3 linked regions of the Homo sapiens genome follow. The protein of the gene in region 3 interacts with the protein of the main gene of each other region in a pairwise test. Each region holds a gene or a part of one and is shown on either strand. Other genes may lie near its edges.

Evidence for each region.
Region 1: the proteins of DMRT3 (region 3) and ZMYND12 interact in binary tests that used the Homo sapiens proteins (3 or more experiments, as listed by UniProt).
Region 2: the proteins of DMRT3 (region 3) and ZNF438 interact in binary tests that used the Homo sapiens proteins (3 or more experiments, as listed by UniProt).

The regions. Positions count from the first base shown.
Region 1 is NC_000001.11:42,453,014-42,460,757, forward strand, and holds the start of ZMYND12 (zinc finger MYND domain-containing protein 12), read right to left. Parts: upstream 3,010-7,744; 5' UTR 2,985-3,009; coding exon 2,875-2,984; intron 1-2,874. Other genes in the region: PPCS (phosphopantothenate--cysteine ligase), read left to right, coding at 3,553-4,060, 4,234-4,337, 6,590-6,913. UniProt on the Homo sapiens protein: Required for sperm flagellum function and male fertility.
Region 2 is NC_000010.11:31,028,857-31,036,187, forward strand, and holds the start of ZNF438 (zinc finger protein 438), read right to left. Parts: upstream 3,010-7,331; 5' UTR 2,977-3,009; intron 1-2,976. UniProt on the Homo sapiens protein: Isoform 1 acts as a transcriptional repressor.
Region 3 is NC_000009.12:972,087-979,674, reverse strand, and holds the start of DMRT3 (doublesex- and mab-3-related transcription factor 3), read right to left. Parts: upstream 3,021-7,588; 5' UTR 2,674-3,020; coding exon 2,220-2,673; intron 1-2,219. UniProt on the Homo sapiens protein: Probable transcription factor that plays a role in configuring the spinal circuits controlling stride in vertebrates.

The DNA.
Region 1 (7,744 bases), on a different chromosome or scaffold from region 3:
TGACTTTCTTGTTCCTTAAACTTGGGATGATGAAAAGGAACATTTACTGTGTGCCAACATGGTTCCAGGAAGGGTACTAGATGCTTTACATTCGACCATCAAAACCTATAGAACAACAACCTCAGTTTTGTTTTATCAAAAAATCTTGAAATCTGCAAGACCCAAAGACATAGAAATCTGGAGAAAAGGAAGCAAAAAAACAAAAGGAGAAGGTCTTAAAGAGAATTAAAAGCAAGTAAAAGAAAAAAAATCGAAGATAAGGGCATAGAAGATGATAATTTATACATGCATTTATCAGATATTAGTGCCAACTATGTCTTTTTTTTCACATTTTTATTTTTTGGCCCAAGGGATAAAAGCACAAGTGCCAACTATTTCAAGACACTTTGCTAGAGACTATGGGGCATACAATGACAGGTCGGACATAGATCAAAAGTTAGCATACTTGACAGTCCCTCTGTACACATTTGACATAGTATCTAGCATTAATGGAGCATAACAGAATTGAAATAACACACTCACCAACAATTAAAATGAAGAGAAATATGAGTCATCTGAGAGATACAGAGTACTGTAAAGTTAGTTCAGAGGAAGAAGGAATTACTTCCGGCTGGAGGGATACAGAGGACAGGGGTGTTTTAAGGAAAAAGTCAGTGCTCACACCAAGCAAAAGGATTGAATCTTTCCCAAGCCTGAGTGGCAGGTTTTACCCACGGCGGTTTACTGGCCATCTCTCTGGGGGTGACCCAAAGGCCTCTTAAACTCTATGCCTACAACCAAATCTGATGCCCGTCATCTTTTCCCCGTGTTCCTTGCCCAAGTTAATGGGTTTATTATCCATTTAGTTTTATTCAACAGATGTTCATTGAGTGTCTGGTATGTGTGGCCACTGGGTCTAGTAAAAGACATAGACATCAGACAAGCAAACACAATAATATAAAAGTACAGAAAAAGCAAAGAAAAATGGTACTGTGAGAGAGAAAAGTATGACGGGGAGTTGAGACTGGGTTTAGACCTCTTTGAAGAAATGACATTTAAACTGAGAACTGAAGGATGAAAGGGAGCCAGGAAGGCTTGTAGTTGAAGGGGAGGTTCCTAGCAGAGAGAACAGACTGGGAAAAGAAACTGAGGGAAGAAAGGGCTTAGCAAATTAGAACTTCAGTTCTCTATAACTACAGCAAAGAAAAAATGGGGTGAGTGTGGTGGGAAGTGAAGGTAGAGAAATAACCAGGGCCTTGTATTTTCTGTTACAAATTCTTAATTATATTCTAAAGGCAAGGAAGCCACCAAAGAGGAGATAGCAATGAAAACACAGATACCATCCCTGCCCTTGTGGGGCATACAGCCTAATGAAAGAAATAAATAAATGATTTCAGTCCATGTCCTAAGTGTTAGGATAGGGGACATACTCAGTGCTTTGAGAGCACTGAGGAAGGACACCTAGGCCAGTATGAGAAGGTACTGCAACAGCTTCTTGATCTGTTATGCAGCCGTCAGTGTCTACCTTCCTCTGTATCTGCCACACTGCAGCCCATCCTCTTTCCTTAACACAAATGAGAGCATGTCAGCTCAAAACCATTCATGGTTTCCCAGGAGATAAATTCCAAACCCTTGATCTCATGTCACTGTCTAGCCCTAACCTTTATCTTCTTGGTTTAAACTTCTACTACCTATCACAATGATGTTCCAACTTTTTTTTTTTTTTTTGAGACACAGTTTCACTCTTGTTGCCCAAGCTGGAGTGCAATGGAGCGATCTCGGCTCACTGCAACCTCCGCCTCCCGGGTTCAAACGATTCTCCTGCTTCAGCCTCCCGAGTAGCTAGGATTACAGGTGCACGCCACCACATCCGGCTAATTTTGACTCAACCTATAGTAAGAAATACATTTTTCCTGTACACACACACATGTCCACATAAAACACTAAGACAAAAGTTTTAAGAAACAATTCAGGTAGGATTAACCTGATACTTTCTACTCATTCTGTGCTCTTTTTTGTTGTTGTTGTTTTCTCTAAATGGTGATTGTGACTTATTCATAAACTGCTAAAGGGCCCTGGCCTGCAGTTTGAAAATCACTGACTGCTCCCTCCACTACTACGTTCTCCACTCGGCCCTTAGCAAACTCTGTTCTTTTGCCATTTGCCCTAGCAGTCCCGGATGCCGGGAATGCCCTACCCTTCTTCACTACTCCTGTACACAGCAGGTTCTGACTGCCCTCTCAAAATGCAGCTCAAATGTTTCTTCCACAGGGAAAGCTTTCCACATACTGCCCCATTCACTATCGTCTCACTCTCGTTGCCCAAGCTGGAGTGCAGTGGCGCGATCTCCGCTCACTGCGAGCTCCGCCTCCCGGGTTCAAGCGATTCTTCTGCTTCAGCCTCCCGAGTAGCTGGGATTACAGGCGCCCAGCACCACTCCCGCCTAATTTTTGTATTTTTTAGTAGAGACAGGGTTTCACCATGTTGGCCAGGCTGGTCTCGAACTCCTGACCTCAGGCGATCCGCCCGCCTCGGCCTCCCGAAGTGCTGGGATTACAGGCGTGAGCCACCGCGCCCGGCCTGTTTCTTTACTGATTTGTCTCCCACATTGGAATGTTAGATCTTTGAAGGAACTGATCTACCGAGCTGCCCCAGTAACTTTAGCACCTAAAATAGTGCATAACACAGAGTACGCCTTCAGAAAACATGAGTGACGAATAAGTGGGAGATGAGACAGACGAGGCCACGGGAGTCTTAGGGGCCTGTCTTAAAGCCGTTTTGAGGTGTCCCTTGCAGAGTCAGGGGCAACGGCTAACGCAAGGTACCCAAGCCAGACCCGGGAAAGGGAGAGAGGGAGGGAGTTATAGCGCCCAGGTGCCACGTTTCAGGGCCTACCAGTAATAAGTGACTGTGCAGGCCGCGCACACCCGCTCGGCTGGGGCTTCGCACACCTCACAGCAGAGTCTGCGCCCCTTGGGGACTGCCAGTGGGTAGATCACATTCATGGTGCAGCCAGCAGTGCTGGTCTCTAAGACGGTTGCCCAGCAAGGATACGCTGAACCCCGGCGTCACGTGACGATCGCGGGGCTGCGTACTTGCCAGCATTTCAAGGGCAGAGGGCGGCGGGACGTGACTCGACTAACATCTGGGTGTATTGCTGAAGTTGGAAAAGGGGAAGAAAGAAAGAAAAAGCAGCACAAAACCCACAAGTCCCACGGGTCAAATGGCCGAGAAACGACTCCCAAGGAGTCCAAGTCCAGAAAGGCCCGTACAGTGGCCGGTAAGGGTCAAACATGGCCAGTTCTTCACCCAGGCTAGGAAACGAACGTGAGGGAACGTGACCCTACCAGATGCCCACCCAGCCGGGGATCCCCCTCGTTGCAGTGTCACTTTCGCTGGGCTCTGGGGCAGAACAACTACGCATTTCCAGACTTGGCGAGATCGGGACCTAGTGTCAAAAGAAGGGTAGTGAACCGCCCACTCAGTACGGCGCGGCGCGTACACCAGGTAGGCGAGAAGGGGCGTGGCGCGGCGGCCGCGAAACGTGCGCAGGCGCCGGCCGCTGCGCTGCAGATGGCGGAAATGGATCCGGTAGCCGAGTTCCCCCAGCCTCCCGGTGCTGCGCGCTGGGCTGAGGTTATGGCTCGCTTCGCGGCCAGGCTGGGCGCGCAGGGCCGGCGGGTGGTGTTGGTTACGTCAGGCGGCACCAAGGTCCCACTGGAAGCGCGGCCGGTGCGCTTCCTGGACAACTTCAGCAGCGGGCGGCGCGGTGCAACCTCGGCCGAGGCCTTCCTAGCCGCCGGCTACGGGGTCCTGTTCTTGTATCGCGCTCGCTCTGCCTTCCCCTATGCCCACCGCTTCCCACCCCAGACTTGGCTGTCCGCTCTGCGGCCTTCGGGCCCAGCCCTTTCGGGCTTGCTGAGCCTGGAGGCCGAGGAGAATGCACTTCCGGGTTTTGCTGAGGCTCTGAGGAGCTACCAGGAGGCTGCGGCTGCAGGCACCTTCCTGGCAGTAGAGTTCACCACTTTGGCGGACTATTTGCATCTGTTGCAGGCTGCGGCCCAGGCACTCAATCCGCTAGGTGCGTGCCCTAGGAGTACCCCTTTTGCCTGGAAGCACAGCCTTTCTTTCCAGCCACTTATCCCCTTACCTCCTGCTTACCCACGGATCTCAGCTGGGGAACCCGAGTTGAGAAGGAGCTGATCCTATATCGTACCTCGCCGATTTGTTAACACCTTGTGTTTCTCTTTGCAGGCCCTTCTGCGATGTTTTACCTGGCTGCGGCTGTGTCAGATTTCTATGTTCCTGTCTCTGAAATGCCTGAACACAAGATCCAGTCATCTGGGGGCCCACTGCAGGTGATGGGCGCTTCTCTTCCAGAGATCTAATCCCATATAACCAATCTTGGGTTAATTTCCTCTTGATCTGGAGATGGCCTTTCTGCATCTGTATTCGCTAGGCACAGGGGATACAGAGATGAATAAGACACCGCCCTCCCTCATGGACCTCACAATCTAGTGAGGGAGCTGGACACAGACATAATTACAATACAGAGTGATAAATGCTCTAGTGGAGGTATGTACAAAGTGCAGTCAGATCATGGGGCGAGTGAATCCTGGGGGAGTCGATGAAGCTTCTTGGAGGAGATGAATTGAACTGGGTTTTAAAAGATGAGCAGAACCGAGCGCGGTGGCTCACGCCTGTAATCCCAGCACTTTGGGAGGCCAAGGAGGGCAGATCGCCTGAGGTCAGGAGTTCGAGACCAGCCTGGCCAACATGGTGAAACCCCGTCTCTACTAAAAAAATACAAAAATTAGCCGGGCGTGGTGGCAGGCGCCTGTAATCCCAGCTACTCGGGAGGCTGAGGCAGAAGAATCGCTTGAAACCAGGAGGCGGAGGTTGCAGTGAGCTGAGATCTCGCCATTGCACTCCAGCCCGGGCGACGAGAGCGATACTCCGTCGCAAAAAAAAAAAAAAACACCAAAAATCAAAACAAAATGAGCAGAGGGTGTACGAAGTGGGAAAGGTCATTCCAGGTGGAGTATGGCAGTAGGAATTTGAAAGTGGGCAGTGGGCTGTGAACCGAAGTGCTTTGGTAAGGCTGGAGAGCTGACTGAAGAGATGGCTTGCTTTGTAGAAGACTTTATTTTCCTTTTTTAAGGAGCTTGGACTTTTTCTTGTGGAGCTAAGGGACACATAAGTAGGAGAATGAGATAAAGTTTTTGTTTGAGAACAACATTCTGGCATCAGTATGAAAGACGAAGTAGAGAAGGAGAAAGTGGAGTGGGTAGATTAGTTGGGGGCTATTGTAGGTTAAGGAAGAAATATGGATAAGGTAGGTGTGGTTGTGATTTTAGATTTTTGGAACCTTCAGGAGTTCTTAGTCATTTATTGGGTGATACAGGTAGGATTTTATTAGGAGAAACTCTTATCTGTGGGGCATTTGCCGACTTTGTAGAATAGTTTATTGAGGTCCTACACTGCTGTAGGACTTAGAGATGAAAGCAGTGAAAAGAAACATACCCTGCCTTTGTGTTGCTTCCTCTGCAGAGGAGACAATAAATAAGTCAAATACATAACTCGTTTAGTAGTGATAAATGCTAAGGAGAAAAATAAAGTATAAATAAACTGGTATATGATCCCTATCACACTAACAGCTTTTTTTTAGGGCAAAGTCTGATGATTAGCTTAGTGATTTCACGCTTTTTAATCTCTGGGATCTTTAGTTTATCCCACAGTTTTTAGTTCTATCTTGAAAGTAACAAAGCAACTGAACATTACCCTGAGAAGGGATTGGGGATGAGGTACTAGGAGTTTTGGTCAAGTGAAAATAAAATCAGTTTCCTCACTGCTAAGTTGTGTTACATGTGACAATTTAAAAATGGAATCTAATAGCCATTCTACCAATGCAAGAAATATTTTAGGCTGAGAGGTTTAAAAACCCAACTTTATTTAGGCTTCTGCCAAATATTTGTATGAACAGATTATTTGTATCTGTTTATTTGAGGGTTTGGTTCAAAAATAAAGGGACATGCTTGAGAAAATATTAATGGTGGTAAGGTTGGCAGAGCATGGCAGGGCTTATTCAGAAGGCATGGTTTGCCCCAGAATATGTATGGAGCCTTGAATTTAGGCATCGCTGTGAACTCTACAGAGCCAAGGCTTTTTTTTTTTTTTTTTTTTTTTGTGAGACAAGGTGTCGCTCTGTTGCCCAGGCTGAAGTGCAGTGGCATGAACACAGCTCACTGCAGCCTCAACCTTCCAGGCTCAAGTGATCTTCCCATCTCAGCCTCCTGAGTAGCTGGGACTACAGGTGGGTGCCACCATGCTTGGCTAATTTTTGTATTTTTTTGTAGAGACATGGTTTTGCCATGTTGCCCAGGCTGGTCTTGAACTGGGCTCAAGCGATCCACCCATCCTGGCCTTCCAAAGTGCTGGGATTACAGGCCAAGCCACTGTGTTCCCCTAAGACTTTTTAAACTAAACATTTAACTGAAAAGTTTGATGGTTGAGAAATCCCACTTAAATTTAATTCCTTAGTTTCCCATGAGATTGACCTGGTAGGTAATGACCATTGTTTGCTTATTAAGCTTTTCTTTTTCCAATACAGATAACAATGAAGATGGTGCCAAAACTGCTTTCTCCTTTGGTTAAAGATTGGGCTCCCAAAGCATTTATAATTTCCTTTAAGTTGGAGACTGACCCCGCCATTGTAATTAATCGAGCTCGGAAGGCTTTGGAAATTTATCAGCATCAAGTGGTGGTGGCTAATATCCTTGAGTCACGACAGTCCTTTGTGTTTATTGTAACCAAAGACTCGGAAACCAAGTTATTGCTATCAGAGGAAGAAATAGAAAAAGGCGTAGAGATAGAAGAGAAGATAGTGGATAATCTTCAGTCTCGACACACAGCTTTTATAGGTGACAGAAACTGAAGTAAAAAGCCCTTATAGGATCAAAAATTGTTCAGGGCTCTTAGAGATGGTGAAAACTACAAAAAAAACCATGGCTTTCATATGGACAGATAAAATGAAAGAAAGGGAAAAGGCAGTGGTGTGTAGGCAAATATGGTTTGGCATTTGTCTTTTAATGACACCTGATATGATGTCATTTTGATTTTGAAATTGAACACTAGAACTGTTAATCACCTTTAAAAAGAAGAGCTTATTGGGAATTATATATTCCTTAAAATATACATGGGGGCCTGAATGTCAGCCATCTTTATACTATAGAAAAAGGATTATGGATGCATGAATGGTCATGCTTTGGAGATCAAATATTGGTTGAATGCCTATGTATGTCAGGCCCTGTGCTGAGCCATGAGGATTAAAAAGATGAATAAACATATCTTGTTTAGGAAATGGATGTATAAAAAAATCAAGTGCAATAAAGTGTGTGTCCAAAAGCTGACACAATGGAAAGGATGTTTTGTTTTGTTTGAAATTTATCAAATATAGTAGTAGGAAAGAAGGATACCTCCCTGAAGATAGATTGTAGAATGGTGAGCTTTTCACTGCATTTACTTTTTGCTTCTTATTGTAGATTCACCTCATGTTTGGGTAATAGTTTACATTTCAAGTATTTTAGGACTGCTTTTCAGTTTAACTTAATATGTCCTTCCACCTGGGACCAGGCAGGGGCCACTTGGTGATCTCTGTCCTGAGGGATGCATTACAGTGTGGTAGAGTATGGGCTAGAAGTCAACTTAGCCAGCTGTGCCACCTATTAGCTTTATAAACTTAGGCATTTGACTTAATCTCAGTGTC
Region 2 (7,331 bases), on a different chromosome or scaffold from region 3:
GGGGAATACCAGATACTGGCTGCATGAACCCAGTCAGGTCGTAATCAAAGACCAGTTAGCACAGTCCCACTGCCTATAATCTTTCTCCCACAGACAACCAAAGCTTAGATGAAAAACAAAAGCATGCTTTCTCTTCAGAAAAATAAATGGGTATCTCCAACCCTGACCACTCCCCTGAGTTCCATATTCACAGGCATGCATACTCAACATGTTCACTCGGAGGTGGTTACAGGGATTCAATGCATGGACTCCAAAGCCACAATGCTTAGGTTTGAATCCTAGCTACATCACTCACCAGCTGGGTGACTTCAGACAAGTCACTTATAACCTCTTTTTGCCTCTATTTTCTCGTGCTGTAAAATGGGGACAATAATGGTTCCTTGCACATATAATTCTTATGATGATTAAATGAATTAATATAGGTTAAAGTACTTAAAACCCTGCCTGGGACTCAGTTTACGCTTACATAATACTATTTTTACTAGCACTGTTGTTATGACTATGTCTAACAGGCATTTAGAACTTGTGCAAAACTAAATTTGTAATTTTCCTCAGTAAACAGCACCACTATACTTCTAGTTGTTCCAGCCTAAACCTAAAAAATCATCACTTCTCCCTTTTCTTCAAATTCCACATCAGCTCGTTTCCCGTCAGCTCTACCTTCAAAACGTATCACCAATTCTACCGCCTACCATCATCTCCACAACTAACCTCCCCCAGCCCAAACCACCATCATTTCACCTGCAGGGCACAGCAGCTTTCTCCCGATTTTCACTCCATCCGACCCACTCTAATCTACAGTTAATTCTCCATACAATAAAACTTAAATCAGACACCAGTCCCTTGATGCAAACCTTCCAATGGTTTTCCATCACAGTTAGAACAACATCTTTACTTCACCACAGCCTACAAGGGACCCCACGGCCTGCCTGGCCCTTGACCATCATTGGCCACTACTTTCCCCGTTCCCGGCTGTGCTCTAAACACTCTCACTGTGTCTGGACCACCTCAGAGCATTGTCCTGTGCTGTTCCTGCTGTGAGGCCGAAAATACAGTCACCTGGAGCCTGGACTCTGAAGTCAGACTGCCCACGTTCAAATAGTCTCTACCACGTTTTAGCTGTGCAACTTTGGCAAATTCTTAACCTTTCTGTGTGTCAGTTGCCTCATCTATGAAAGGGAGATACTAGGTTACATCAAAAGACTTGTAAAAATTTAATTTAGTGTTCAGAATAGTGCCTTACATATGGTAAGCTCTACTTTTTTTAAGTGTTCATTGCTATTAATTATTCCTCTCTGAAATGTTCTTACCTCAGGCTCTTTCCCTCACACTTCAAGTGTCCCTGCCTTTGAATGGCTTTTCCTGACAGATCCCACCAAAAACAACCTTCCCTGTTCCCCCACTGTCCTCCTTTCTTCCTTCCCTTCACTGCACTTATGACTACCTGAAATTACATTATGCACGTATTGTTCGTTGTCTATTTCCCACTGCAATATGAGCCCTGCTAGGTTGGAGGCTGTCTTCTTTGCTGCTCTATTTCCAGAGATTTCTGACTCACATCTCATCCAGGCTAGGGGACCAATGCGAATCTCCTAATAACAATAGCACACTTAGCCTTTCATTTGCACTCTCGTGATCTCATTTGATCCTGGAAAAACCAACAAACAGATAAACCATCGGCTCTCATTTTAGATAAGAAAAACAAAGTTCCAAGTTTGCGTGACTTGTCCTTGGACACGAAGCTAGTTAACGAATAGAACAAAAATTAGAAGCCCTGCTTTCTGATTCAAAGGCTCTTCCTACCTGGATGAAAAGATATCACACTCCTGAAATGAATTTACAGAAATGTGAACTCTCGAGCTCCTGTATAAATACACCCTGAAGTGTGCACAGTATTCTTCCCTTCAAAGTTCCTGAAGACTACTAGTCCCGGAGTTTGAGAGGCATTATAGTCTAGTAATAACTAATCGATAATGTAGTACCCCTTGACCAAAATATTCAAGCAGTCAGATACGATGATTGGATATTCCAAATCGATACAGCAATCCTTAAAACTCAGTGAGTCTGTGTTGTCTATAATGTGCTAGTTCCAGCACACTGAAAGCTTCCTCTGCAAAACCCAGACAACGGGGGCATTGTAATTGCCAAGAGTACCGTGCTAACGATACCTGTTATTTCTTGGGATCCCCATTCTATCAAGTTTAGTGACAACAGTTCGATCACCCAACAGGCTCCAGTGTGGTATAGAATCAGATGGAGGGAAGGTTGTCGGGGGGAGGCAAAACAGTGAAAAAGTTCCCCTTCTACAAGATTCCTGGTCAAATAGCCAGTGGCTACCACATTCCTCAGAATAACCAAGTGTCTGTGTATAAGCTTTCTCCTAGCAAATTTACACACTTGTGTTATCTCACGTGTTCCTAGTGCTGTGGGAACAACCATTAGGGAGGCCAGAGGCTGCTGTACCTCCCTTTTACACAAAAAAGAAAACTGAGGCAGCAACTGGTTATCTTATAAATGTGTCCACGATGACTTGGTCACTTGTGGGATCCCAACGGCCAGGACATAGGATTCCTATTCTCTGAGAGGAAGCTTCCATCCCCTACTTAACATGTCAAACTCCAAGGCTGAGAGGGGGAAGAAAAGGAATCTAAGTCCCTTTATCACGGAAGAAAAAAAGGGACTCTCCATTTGGACTTTCCGCCCCTTCTAAGGCCTCGCTCCCAGGCTCGGAGACGCGCCCCGCCCCAGGGGAAAAGGTGCTGGCCCGGCCCCACGGGGCGCGGCCTCGCCTCCCGCACCCCAGGTCCCTACCGCCCAGCAGGGCGCGCTGCCACTCTGAGCAGACACCTGTCCCTTCGCCACAATCGGCGACTCCCCAAGGAACTGACGCCCCCAGAGCCACCACCACCGCCGGGACTGCCAGCTGCCAGCGGGCCCCGCAAGCCCTAGGAGCTGCAGGAATCCTCGTAAACTTACAGTTTTCCTACAGCGTGCGCGTCACAGCGGGGTGACGTCACGGGCCCAGCAGTCGGGGAGGTCAAGCCACGGGGCGCGGGCCGCTGGGCCCCCAGGCTCCGCCCTCGCCCCGCCCCGGCGCCGCGGCGGGAGACACGCCCCCGAGCTCCACGCCCTCGAGCTCCACGCACCTCCCCGTAGCAGACACCCCGCGCAGGCGCAGACGGCCTCTGCGCCCGCATGCCTGTGGGCTTCGCCGACCGGGGCGCCTGCGGCGGCGACTGCTCTACCAAAGCCTCACTCAAAGCCTGAAGTCGGGGTTAGAGGAGGAGGAGGGGCCGACAAAAGGGGACGGAGACCTTCAGAAATACTGTAAACAAGCTGTCGCCCTGGGGGCTGGAGTAAGACGCCTGGGTTGTGAGGTAGTTTTTCCACAGACATTGCCCGCCTTCCTCACGTGTTCGTTAAAAGTTCTCCACGTGTGGAAACAGCCATTTGCTCTCCATCAGGTGCTGGCGGGTCCTCAGCCCTGAAAAGACAGCTCTCCCAGGGTCCCTCGCTCCTCCCCGGCTCGACGCGGCTCCCGCTAGACTCCGCCCAGACCCCGAGCAGTCCCCGCCCATCTCTTGACTATGCCCCTCCCACGCCCACTTAGGCCTTGCCCCTGGGTCCCGCCCTTCCGGCTCCCGCCCCTGGCTCCCGGCTCCCGCGGGCCCCCACCTGCCCTTCTTGCCCTGGCGCCGCCTCCAGCCCAGCCCGTTTCTTGCAGATTTTAGCTTCTCCCTTGCCTGCCGCCTTTCCCGTTTCGGCTCGGTGAAGCTACCTATGGGTTGCTGTTCATTTAACAAACGGTGATCCGGATAAACATGTTCACTTCTTCGCCTGGGCAAACTTTCCAGCCCCCGACCCACTCATGTCACGATACCTTCCCGTGTCCAAGTCCGGCTCTCTGCTCCCCACTTTTTTTTTTTTTTTTTTTTGAGACAGAGTGTTTCTCTGTCTCCCAGGCTGGAGTGCAGTGGCGCGATCTCAACTCACAGTACCCCCTGCCTCCCGGGTTCAAACGATTTTCTTGCCTCAGCCTCCTGAGTAGCTGGGATTACAGGCGCGCGCCACCACAGCCGGCTAATTTTTATGTTTTAGTAGAGACAGGGTTTCACCATGTTGGCCAGGATGGTCTCCATCTCTTGACCTCGTGATCCGCCCGCCTCGGCCTCTCAAGGTGCTGGGATTACAGGTGTGAGCCGCCGCGCCCGGCCTCTTTGCTCTTTTATACTCTCAGAAGCAATGAGTTCTGGTTAAAAAAAAGGGCTCGATAGACGGAAAAAATGAAGGCTTAAAGAACTGACAACAAAATATTAACATTTGGCTTGTGGAATTCTTACACTCTCGTAAGCAGAAAAAACAAATGTTATGGCAAAAAAGTGTCTCAGACAAATCCGTCTTGGGGGGAAAAAAATTAAAAGAATGAGAAAAACAGACTTCGGAATAAATAGACCCAAAGGAGGAAGTATTGAAAATGGCAAGATTCACTTTTACAAACTTATTTGGAACCACGGCAGATGGCCAGGGCAGGGATTTTGCAAGGCAGCTCCAGTTGTAAGTAAAACCTGAAACAATGGTTTATTTCCACTCTCATTGAAAGTGCTGTCTTATTTTTACAGGAAAGAGTGATGATGGGAATATTAGGCTTTAATTCGAGATCTGAGCTGGTTAAAAATAAAAACGTTTATTATTCCAGAAAAATCTACGTCAGTGTTTTTAAATGTTCTGATTTGAAAAAATATTTGTATATTTTATCTGAATATTAGTTATTATCAAATGATGTAAAAGAAATTTGTAAAGGCTGTACCATAATTGTAACAATAAGGTTTTTCTGTAGAGCAGAGGTATAGAAAAATTAACATTTTTTAAAGTCCTGCATATTTTTAAAACAGTGATATTTATGTTTTTCCTTGCAAAACAATTTTAAGAAACCTTTAAATTGTTAATAGTTTACATGCTTATAAAATGTTTTATATATATCATTTCTAAAAATCGTAATTTTTTTAAGTGAGTTTCTAGGTATACCTTATGGGAGTGTTTCACAGGTACATGTCATCTGTTATTTTTTGGAGTGGAAATGGGTAAGAAGCATACACCAAATGTATCAAATGTTTTTACTATAGATACTTTTGCCTCTGAAAGATGGCATTGTAGAATATAGTCTTCTCATCGTATTGTTCAGTATACTTTCTCTTGAAATCTCAGGTATTCAAAAAAAAAAGTCGTTGTTTTGCTAGATGCAGGAAAAAAGTAAACGCAGTGAACAAAAGATGGCCAACAGTAAAGGTACCCAAGCAAGGATCACAGTCTCAAGGAATGTCAAGTAGAAATTTGTGGGAAAATACCACTCACGTTCAGTCAACTTTCTGTAACAAACTGGAATTTGACCTAGACAGGAAGTGAGAAGCTAGGGCCAAAAGTGTTGTTATTAAAGAGAGGATCTGCTTTTTTAAAGAAAATAAAACCCTGGACCTTGGAGGTTTAGCACTGGAAGCACTGAGGCCCTCCACTATGGCCCTTGGGCTTTCAGTTCCCCCTTGTGATTCTTTCTCTTTGATATCTGCTGCCCATAGCAATCTGGCTTCCAGAGCCCTCTATGTCAATACACACATCTCTTCCCTTGGTCCTGCTTAGCAAGCTAAGAAAAGCTGAATTAAGACAAAACAGAGTACTTAATGTATGGGGAAAATAAAAGTGAAAGAAATATAATTCCTAATATTTCCTGAGTATTGATTCTGTGCCAAGCATTGCATTATTTCCTTGAATTCTTGCAACTAGATAAGAACTGTTACTATCCCCATTTTAAACACAAGGTAAGTAGGTTAAGTGCCCATGTCACACAGCTGCTGAGTAACACAGTCAAGATTCCAGACTTCATACTTCAGAACCCACAGCCATAACCACTAATCTGTCTCAAGTTTCATACAACCAGGCACAAATTATGCAAGAAACAGAGGGACTTAGGAAGTCCAAAATATGGACTTAGCTCTAAAATACTGACCACAGTGTATGGGTATCTTCTTCACTGTTTTCCATCCCATCTTTGCATGACTGCTTTTATTTGATTTTTTAAGGTGGTCATCATGACCCAGTAAGTTGATTTTGTGATCGGTTAAAGGGTAGCTACTCAGAAAAACACTAATCAGAATCCAAAATACAAAATATCAGATTGTATCACATGTAATAAGGGTATTTTTTTCCCAACACAAATTAGGGGAAACTTTCAGCCACATGTGTGTATTCTGGGTTGCAACGTTAAATGTATTTCATACTATGGATTTCAATCAAAAAAAATTTGAAAAACACTATTATAACCACGCCTTGCCTAACTAACATGCATCATTTATCCTTCAGGATCAAGACCAAGGGAAACAAAATCCCATTCTGCAATCCCCTTACATTCCTCTCTTAAGTCCCAGGATCTGGTTTGATGATCTCTTCCCAGGTAATTGACATAAAAATCAGGTCACTCCTGATTAGAGATAGGCCCTTGTCTCCAACTCAAACCCAAGAATATACTAATAACAACAAAATAACCATCTATAAAACAAGAGTTACACAGGTTAAAAGGGGGCTTATTCTGCCAAAGGAGCAGAGATAGAGACTTTGCTGGAAGAAGACCTGGGACAGAGATTGGAGAGCTCTGGAGGGATGTCTGTTTAATAACAGTCTTACAAGTCTGCAGTTACACAGTTTGCACAGTATTTCATCTCATTTTATCACCTCCCTTCCCTCATCATTTTACTTAGCTAATTCTCCCCAATCCTTTAGGTCTCTACTTTGCAGGAACTGACTCTGAGAAGCCTTCCCTAAGCAGCTTTGGCTCTCTGCATTGCAAATTATTTTAATTGCTTCTTCTCCTAGACTGTAAGCTCTGTGAGAATAGGGGAAATGTGAGTCTTAACCTCGAATCCTCTACATGTAGTATCCCAAATAGATTATCAGTTAATATGTGTAGAGGAATGCGTGGTGAATGGATGGATGAACTCGAATTCAAAGACTGGGTAGCTTTCTTACTCAAGATGCTAGTTATTTTCTAAAAAGGGGATACTGTCAATAGAAATAATTCTGATGAGAAAATTCCTTTAGGAGACAAGTCATTTTGAATGGCAATGCAGCATAACATAGTAAAGCACTGAACAGGGCCAGCTCTGTTATTAACTGGGTACTTTATGGCAAGTCCAGTAACTTCTGCAAGCCTCAAATGGGGTTAGACTTACTAAATATTACTTATTTATTTTTGAGACAGGCTCTTGCCCAGGCTGGAGTACAATGGAAAGACCATAGCTCACTATAACCTTGAACTCCTAGGCTCAAGGGATTCTCCCACC
Region 3 (7,588 bases):
CAATCATCTATTATTTTCCTACCTTTCTCCCCACTCCCCATCAGAGTGGTGATTTGCTTTTTTTTAAAAAAATGGGAATTATGGGGTCACAGCAAGTGAAAGAAGAAAACAAAAGTTGTGTACATCAATGTACAAGGTATGGGGGGGTGGGGGTGACCAGCTGGAAACTGAGCCCTTGGTCCCTGATGCCTCGGTCCCCCAAAGTCCTCACTTGGACCTCGCCTTGTGATAAATCCTATTCTCCTTTGCAATTACTTGTTTTCAATTCGGAAGGCTCAGGCTATCCCTGAGTGCTAAGTAGGAGTAAAACAGCACAGCTCTGCTTTGTCCAGTTGAGATCCGTTTCCTTTTTCTATTCTCCCAAAGCACGTATCCTGCTGCCGCTGCCTACTCTGCCTTCCTGCCTGCCCTCACTCCTCCTCCTCCTGGGGTTGTGTTTTTAGTTTTGTGACTCTTTAGAAATCATGAACTTTAGCTATCCCAAAGAATACTCTGAAGAACACAGGATGTGAAAGGCATCTCCTTGGATAAAAACCACAGAACCCAATGCCCGATCACAGGAGTGCTGCTGAGTTAACCTCTGATGTTAACTCAGGCCTCTGCCCTAGTCCTGGGGGAAACGGAACCAGAGAAGCTGGAAATGGAAAAAAATTAAGAAAATATATTGGTACAAATCCAATTCTAGAGCTGAGACCAAACTCTTCCTTGTTATTTGTTCAAACCTATGGGAGAAAAATAATAAAACCTTTTTCTCCTCCCTCCTCTTCGTCTGTGACAAATCCATAAATATAAAAAGATGAGACAGACAAAAGAGAGACAACTGGCGATCATTTCTGAGAAACGTTTATATGCTAACTTGGATTAAATATCCACAAAATCCAAGTTCGGCAAACTCTCTTCAGGCTTTAAAATTCCCAGCTCTACTGTCACACAGGCTGTTCTCAGAGCTTCAGGCCTGGAAAGCATGGCGGAAAGACAGGGCAGCAGAACTCCACCTGCCAGTCACCCGTTGACTCACCATGAAACAGGTGAGTCCGCCTCACTTCCTCAGCTCCACAGGATCCAGACAAAGCAGTCCTGGGCTCCTGAAAGCCTTTCTCCGAAGCTAGGGGTACCGTCTTTAGGGAGTTGGCAGGTCAGTGTAGGTACCAGTTTTGCCACAGTTCTACTTACAGGAGGGCTCTGGACCTTCCCACTCCTAATTCCAGCATGCCCCCTTCCGGGAGAAGGTGGGCTGTGTTCCTTTGCACATTTGCCCCAGTTAAGGAGAAACACCAAACACATATCCACTGAATTCCAAGAGCCATCAAAAGAGCTCTTGAGCTGGGCAGAACCGCAAGCTAGAAATTCCCCAGGAAGAGAGAGACTAAGAGACTCAACTCAGGCCTGCCAAGCTCAGGAGGCCTGGATGGAAACGGATGGGTGGTGGGGGATCAGATTTTTTGTATTCCTTTAAACCACGAAGACAGCTGAGGGCAGCCTGGGGAACAGTGTTAAAGGATCTAGGAGGTTCTGCAAAGGAGTGAATTCTGGGCGCATCAGATTCTTTTCCCGCTATCAGCTCACAAGCCTTTCCGGACCCTTTTACTATCATTGCTAAATGGAACTTATTTCACCAGTTACAAGAGTCTGGAGGCCACGGAGCAAAGCTAGAAAGGCCAGGGTTCTGAGAGTTGGATACTTGTCCTCACTCAAATTTTCCTGGGCCCTGGGCAGGGCCGGGCCGGCCGAGAAGCACAGCCAGCTCGACTCAGCCGAGTGTTGGCCTTGGCTCCTTCCCTACACCTACCTACCCATTCCAACCCCCAAATGGCAAGGACCTCTAAAGCCTGCAGCCAGGAAAATCCGACCCCACCGTAGTGAGTGTGCGCACGTGGGTTTTAATTTTGTCCTGTCTCAACTCCGTTGTCTCCCTGCTCAATCTGACACGTTCCGAACCCTTCAACCTGGGAAGGCACCTGGCGATACTGACGCACAGTCCCGTCGTTTGGCTGCCCGGAGGCGCCTTCCCTGCGGGCGCGAGTGCCACTCGCGCTGGGTCCAGACTCAGCCGGCTTCTCCCGGGAGAGGAAGCCCCGGCCTGGCGGAGAGTAGGAAGGAAAGCCCCGACAGGCCCACGTCCCAAAACTTTGCCTCCAGTCCTCCCAAGTGGAGCTGCAGCTGGCACTCCGAAGTTGCCCCCGCGCCCGGCCAAACTCCCGCACCTCAGACGCTCTTACCTGGCTTGGCGAGCTGCGCCTGCAGAGCCCCGGGCTGCGGCTCGGCAGTCCAACGCAGCGCGGCGGCCGCGGCCAACTCGGCAGCAGGGCGCGGCGGCTGCGGCTGCGACGGCTGAGAGGCTGGCGGCGGCTGCGGGGCGGCGACGGCGTCCCCCGGCGGCGGGGGCCCTGGCAGAGCGCGCAGCGAGTCGGGGATGAGGCTCTCCAAGCTCTCGTTGGCCTGCTGCCGGCGCAGCGCCACCTGCGCAGCCATGACCCGCTGCCGCTCGATGATGAGGATGCACTTCTCGCAGGTGCAGTCCTTGAAGCGGCAGTAACGCTTGTGGCCCTTGAGCCAGGACAGGACGCCATGGTTGCGGCAGCGCGCGCACTTGGGCGTGCGCTGCAGGGGCGCCCGTGGCGGCTGCGACACCGGGCCGCCCATGTACAGGTAGGGGGAGCCGTAGCCGTTCATGCCCCGGGCTCCCGAATGAGTTGGCAGCCTGGCTGCGGGAGAGGGCCAGGGAGCGCTGGACGGCGGGGCTGCGAGGCCCGCTCAGGGGCGGCCTCCGGGCGACGCGGCCCTTGGTCCCGCAGCCCCGGTGGTCGTGTGTGCTCCGGGGCGGCCGGAGGTGCCGCAGTCGTCTCTCCAGCTCCCTTCGCGCTCACAGCTCGGCCTCCCAGCTCACGCCCAGCCAACGCCGACGCGGGCCTCTGCCTTGGGCGCGCAGCCGGGTCGGCACGTCCTCCTTCGCGGAGGCGCTGCGGCGGCTGCAAGGAGCCGGCGACAGCTCTGATTAAGGTCTGAGCCAGCTCTTCTGCAGCTCCCTCGTGAGCCGGCCGGACCCAACACCTCCGCCGCCCTCCCCCAACCCCTCCTCCTTCCCACCGCCACCCCCGCCCCTGGGGTCCCTGTCTCCTTGCACTCCCCGCCCCACGCCTTCCTCCTCCTTTGCGCCCCTCGGGTGCCTGCACTTCACCTTCCTTGCCACCTGCAGCCAGGCCACTCTCGCGGGGGCGCTCGCGGCCCCCTCCTCCAAGCCCTCTCCGCTACCCCAGCCCGCGGCTGGAGACTGCGGCGCTCCAGAACGCGGCGGTGCTCGCGGGGCGGAGAAGGGGAGGACCAGCGGGAGTGAGGGTGGGGGTGCCTGTAAGCGAGTGAGGTGGCCGCTCCGCTTCTCTCTCTTCTCCTCCCTCCAGTCCAGATCTGGCCGCGTTTTTCCGAGCCCAAGGCCGCTTTTATCCCGACATTTGGCCGCAGAAGCTCAGCTCCGGGAGAACTCGAACCTACGGGAGTGTTGCGGTTGCACCCCGGACCTGGGTGGAGTTTAGGATAGGGGAGTGAAGTGATGTTGGTTTAGGAAAGTTAGGCTCTTTTCGTAATTTCCTTTTAGAACGTATTTTTTTCTCTTTTGTTGCTTTAGAAGAAAATGGTTTTGGAGATCTGCCGGCCCAAGGATGACAAGCCATTTTGCAGGCGAATTTTACTTTTCTACCCTCCTGTCCATGTTTTAATATAAAACAGTATCCTGAAAGGTCAGGGACGTACGTGCTCCTGTAAAGGATTTGTTAAGCGCCGGGTATAAACTTTCAAGGGGCAGACACAGAAGCCACATTGGCGCCCCCAAAGTTACCGATATCCTCTTCCCTCGCTCCCAGCAGCTACTGGAAGCAAACGGAGGTCTTGCGCCAGCCACTCAGTTCAAATCCCCACGGATTCTGTGATTCAGTTATGGATATGGGATGGGGCCACTTTTTCACCTCCTTAACCCATAGACCCCAGTCATAGATGTCTTGGGGGAGAGGGTCCTTCACAAGATGACAGCAGAAAACTTTGTTTAGATTATTTGCGTGTTCCCATTCTCCCAGGAGTAGCGGGCTTGGCCTAGTGCAGACTATCGCTATATATGCACAAAGAAGGCCCTCCACCCTCGCACCTCCCCACTGCCCATCAGCAAACAAGCAAAAACCAAAAAACAAACAAACAAACAAAACAAGTGGATACACTGCAGGGCAGCACAATAGCTCTATGCGAAGCGGGGCAGTTCCAGAGCCTTCGGTGGATGCGCTTCTGAGAGCGTGCACCAAGCCCATCTCCTGGTGGGGAATCAAATGCTAGATGAGAGCGTAGGCAAGTCCGCTGCAATGTCCGACCCCTCATGGGCACAGAGGCCCTTGTCCCCTCGGGGAGGCCGCTTTTCTCTGTACTGCCCTGGAAGTAAGCAAGCAACCTGAAAACTTTCCTCTGGTGTTTGCCATGAATTCAAGGGAAGCACCTCCAGGCGTTCTAGCAGCCAACCCTCTGCCCAGAAGGCTGATTTGCGGAGAGGAGGGTTGAAAACCGAACCCCAGTTGTGTGTTTCCCTTGAAGCCCTTAGCTGTTCCCGTTTCATACGCGTCCGGGAGGTGGGGATCGCGGGACACTGACCTGGTAGAGTGTGGACAAGAAGCTCTAGCATTCGAGTGCTAACCCTGGGAGGCCATCCTCCAAAGCCGCGTGGGGTAGGGACCCCTCGGTCTTGCCCCTTCCCCCACCACTTTAATCCTTCCTCTAGTCTCAACCTTCTCTAGGAAAACAAGCCCTAAAATACAACTGGAAGGAATTTTGTAAGCTCTGGGGACGGGAGGCAGAGGTCGCCCCCAGCCCTGTAGGCCCGAGGCTAGGAAATGGGGAGCTGGACGCGAGTCATTTAACGTGCTGCGATATAGAGGGCCTCAAATGACACCTTAACTGAAAACTATTGCGCTGAAACCTCCGGATCTCTTGGAAACGTGGGGACCAACGACTTTTTTCAAAACCAAATTTCTTCCGATTTTCTTCAAACAGTGAAACGAGGAAGTATAAAGAACTTGAGTATGAATAAATTTTTAAAAGGAAAGCAGAAGAGCTCTGCACCAGGTTTGTGGGGGCACTTTCACTACCAAGGCGACCCCTTTTCCCCCGTCGGTCACCTAGCCACCCTATCTCGTTGCCACTCAAACAGTCTGGCATTTGGTCCCGGGGGCCCGTTTCACTCCGGTGCACATCGGGGGCTGAGATCTAAATACTCATTTGATATAGTGCAGTAATCCTTTTCTCATATTTGATGGGAATGTTTTCCATATCCCAGTATTTGACAACATCTCCCTATAGGGACAGGTTTGTATTTATGTTGGTAAAATGTCCCCTGCCTCAAAGTCTATTGTAACCCAACACCTGACAACCCCGAGTCCCATTTCTGTTTGCAGAAAGGGTTTATTCAAGCACATAATGGGATCCCAGCAGAAAGCCTTTCAGAACAAGGGGCTGTGGTAAACTTCACCACATGAACTCCGTTTCCAGGGCTATTAAGCTTTTAATTGGAAAATAGCAGAGGAAATTTCAAGGTGACTATAACGTGTTAGCAGTTAGTGCAGAGAAGAAAAGCCGAAGCGGGAATGAATGTAGAAAGCATATGGTCCAAATCACATTTAGGAGGAGCGGCCTGCTTCTACTAAGTCCCAGTAGCTTACACACTTATGGGAAAAATCATCAAAGAAATGGGAAAGGGAAGGGGGAGGATTACAAGTAAATGTAACCTCACTAGACTAGATCCATTGGTGCTCTCCTGTGGATGGTGTGTTCTCAAACCGCAATTAACTGAGTAGAATTCTGGCAGATAATCGTGGAAGAGGAAAAAACAATGTGCGTATGTGGGTCTTTCTCGGCACACACAATCGCTGGGTGTGTGTACATGTAAAAGCTCAGGATGCAGGTGCCCTTGCTGAGAAAGTGAGGACTCCAGATCTGGGAGTCCTGGTATGTGCTCCTCATCCCAACTAATACTCAATCAAAACGGCAGTTTCCGATTGTCCCGGATGTATAACACATCAGCAAATTCTCTGCTGGATTCTCATGGAAGGGGAGGTCAGGGTTCCTATTTCACTGTTTTCATCGCGACCACGATGATGTCAGTGCAGGCAGACGCTGGAAGCCTGAGCGTGAGGAACCCCTGTGAAAACAGAAAAACTTGTCCCCTCTTCCTGTGCGTGAACTACTCAGCTCTCACCTGGTCAGCTTCTCGACCTCGCTCTTCGGCCCGCTTCAAATTGAAAGGAGTTGGGGGAATGTCCAGCCAGGCAGTGGGGCATCCAGCAATCAATTTCTTTAGATGGCAATAATGTCTTGGTTCTCCCTCAGTTGGCTGGGGACAGACTCATGCAAACCCCCCATGAGATCCCCGAAGCCGCCCTCCGGGGCGAGGGGTGGAAAGCAGAGGCCGCTTGGGGTCGGGGAGACGACTGAACCCCGGGGTCACCGGCCCGGGGATACCGCTGAACAGGGGAAGGTCCTGGACCGCTGTTCCCACATAATTTTGGTAGGGGAAGAGACGGGTCGCAGCCTGAGGCCTGCTCCAGATCCCCACGTGCCGAGGCCTTTGGGGACAAACAGGGAGAGCAGAACGGCCTGTGACCTCGCTGGCCCTAAGCCGACCGGGCGGGAGAAGCCAGGTCCTTCATGTTCTCGAACTCTCGAAGCCAGCAGCGGCTCACGCCTAGGAGTTAGCGCTCTCCCGCTTGCGGATTCCTCAGACCCAGCCTGGATACACGACCGCGCCAGCCTTTCGCGGGGTTCAGGTGTAGCTACAGCACGGCTTCATCCGAGGGCCCAGCGCCGCGACCTCAGCCCCGCGCTTTCGAAGGGAACTGGAAAAGCGCTAGCCTGGGGCGCTCCCCGCTGGGCCGCGGTTCCTGGAGGCCCTGGGGGCAGCCGCTCGTCCGACTCCAGCTCCCTGTCGGGAGCGCCCGCGGCGGAGCCGACGCCCAGTAGTAGGAGGGCGTGAGTCCGGCTGGGGACGTCGGCCGCTTCCCCACACCGTCCTGGAAGGGAGCGTCGCAGACCCTGTCCACCTTAAGTGCAAAGGAAAAAAGGCACGTCTCCACCAACGTACAAATGAGCAGCGCTGATGTTAAGTCTTAAGATAACCTTTACCCTGCGACTTTAGAACACAAGGGCTGAAAAAATAATTTTAGGTAATCTGAGCAACATTCAAGGGAGAAGGAAAGTTTCTTCTCCCCAGAGCGTTGGCTCTCAGGGATCTGGGGCACTTCCTCCTCGGGACAAGCCCCTTTTCCAGAAAACCTCACCAGCCTCCCGCCTCCTCCTTTGCTGTCCCTGAACAAAGCCCAGCCGCGGGGAAAGCAAGCGGATTTGCGCGCTTCTGGGAAAGCGTTCGGATTCAGGGGCCCGGGAGTAATGAAGGGAAACGGCCCGCGCGGCCGACACCCCAGGAACAGGGGGCGCGAACTTTGCCTGGAGGCCAGGCCGAGGCGCCCTGCGGAGGCGCGGGAACTGGGAGGAGGGGAGGCTGAGGGGCGCCACACCAGGACGAAAGTAGGCCCGGGCCCTCTCCTCACTTTCCCAGGAGCCT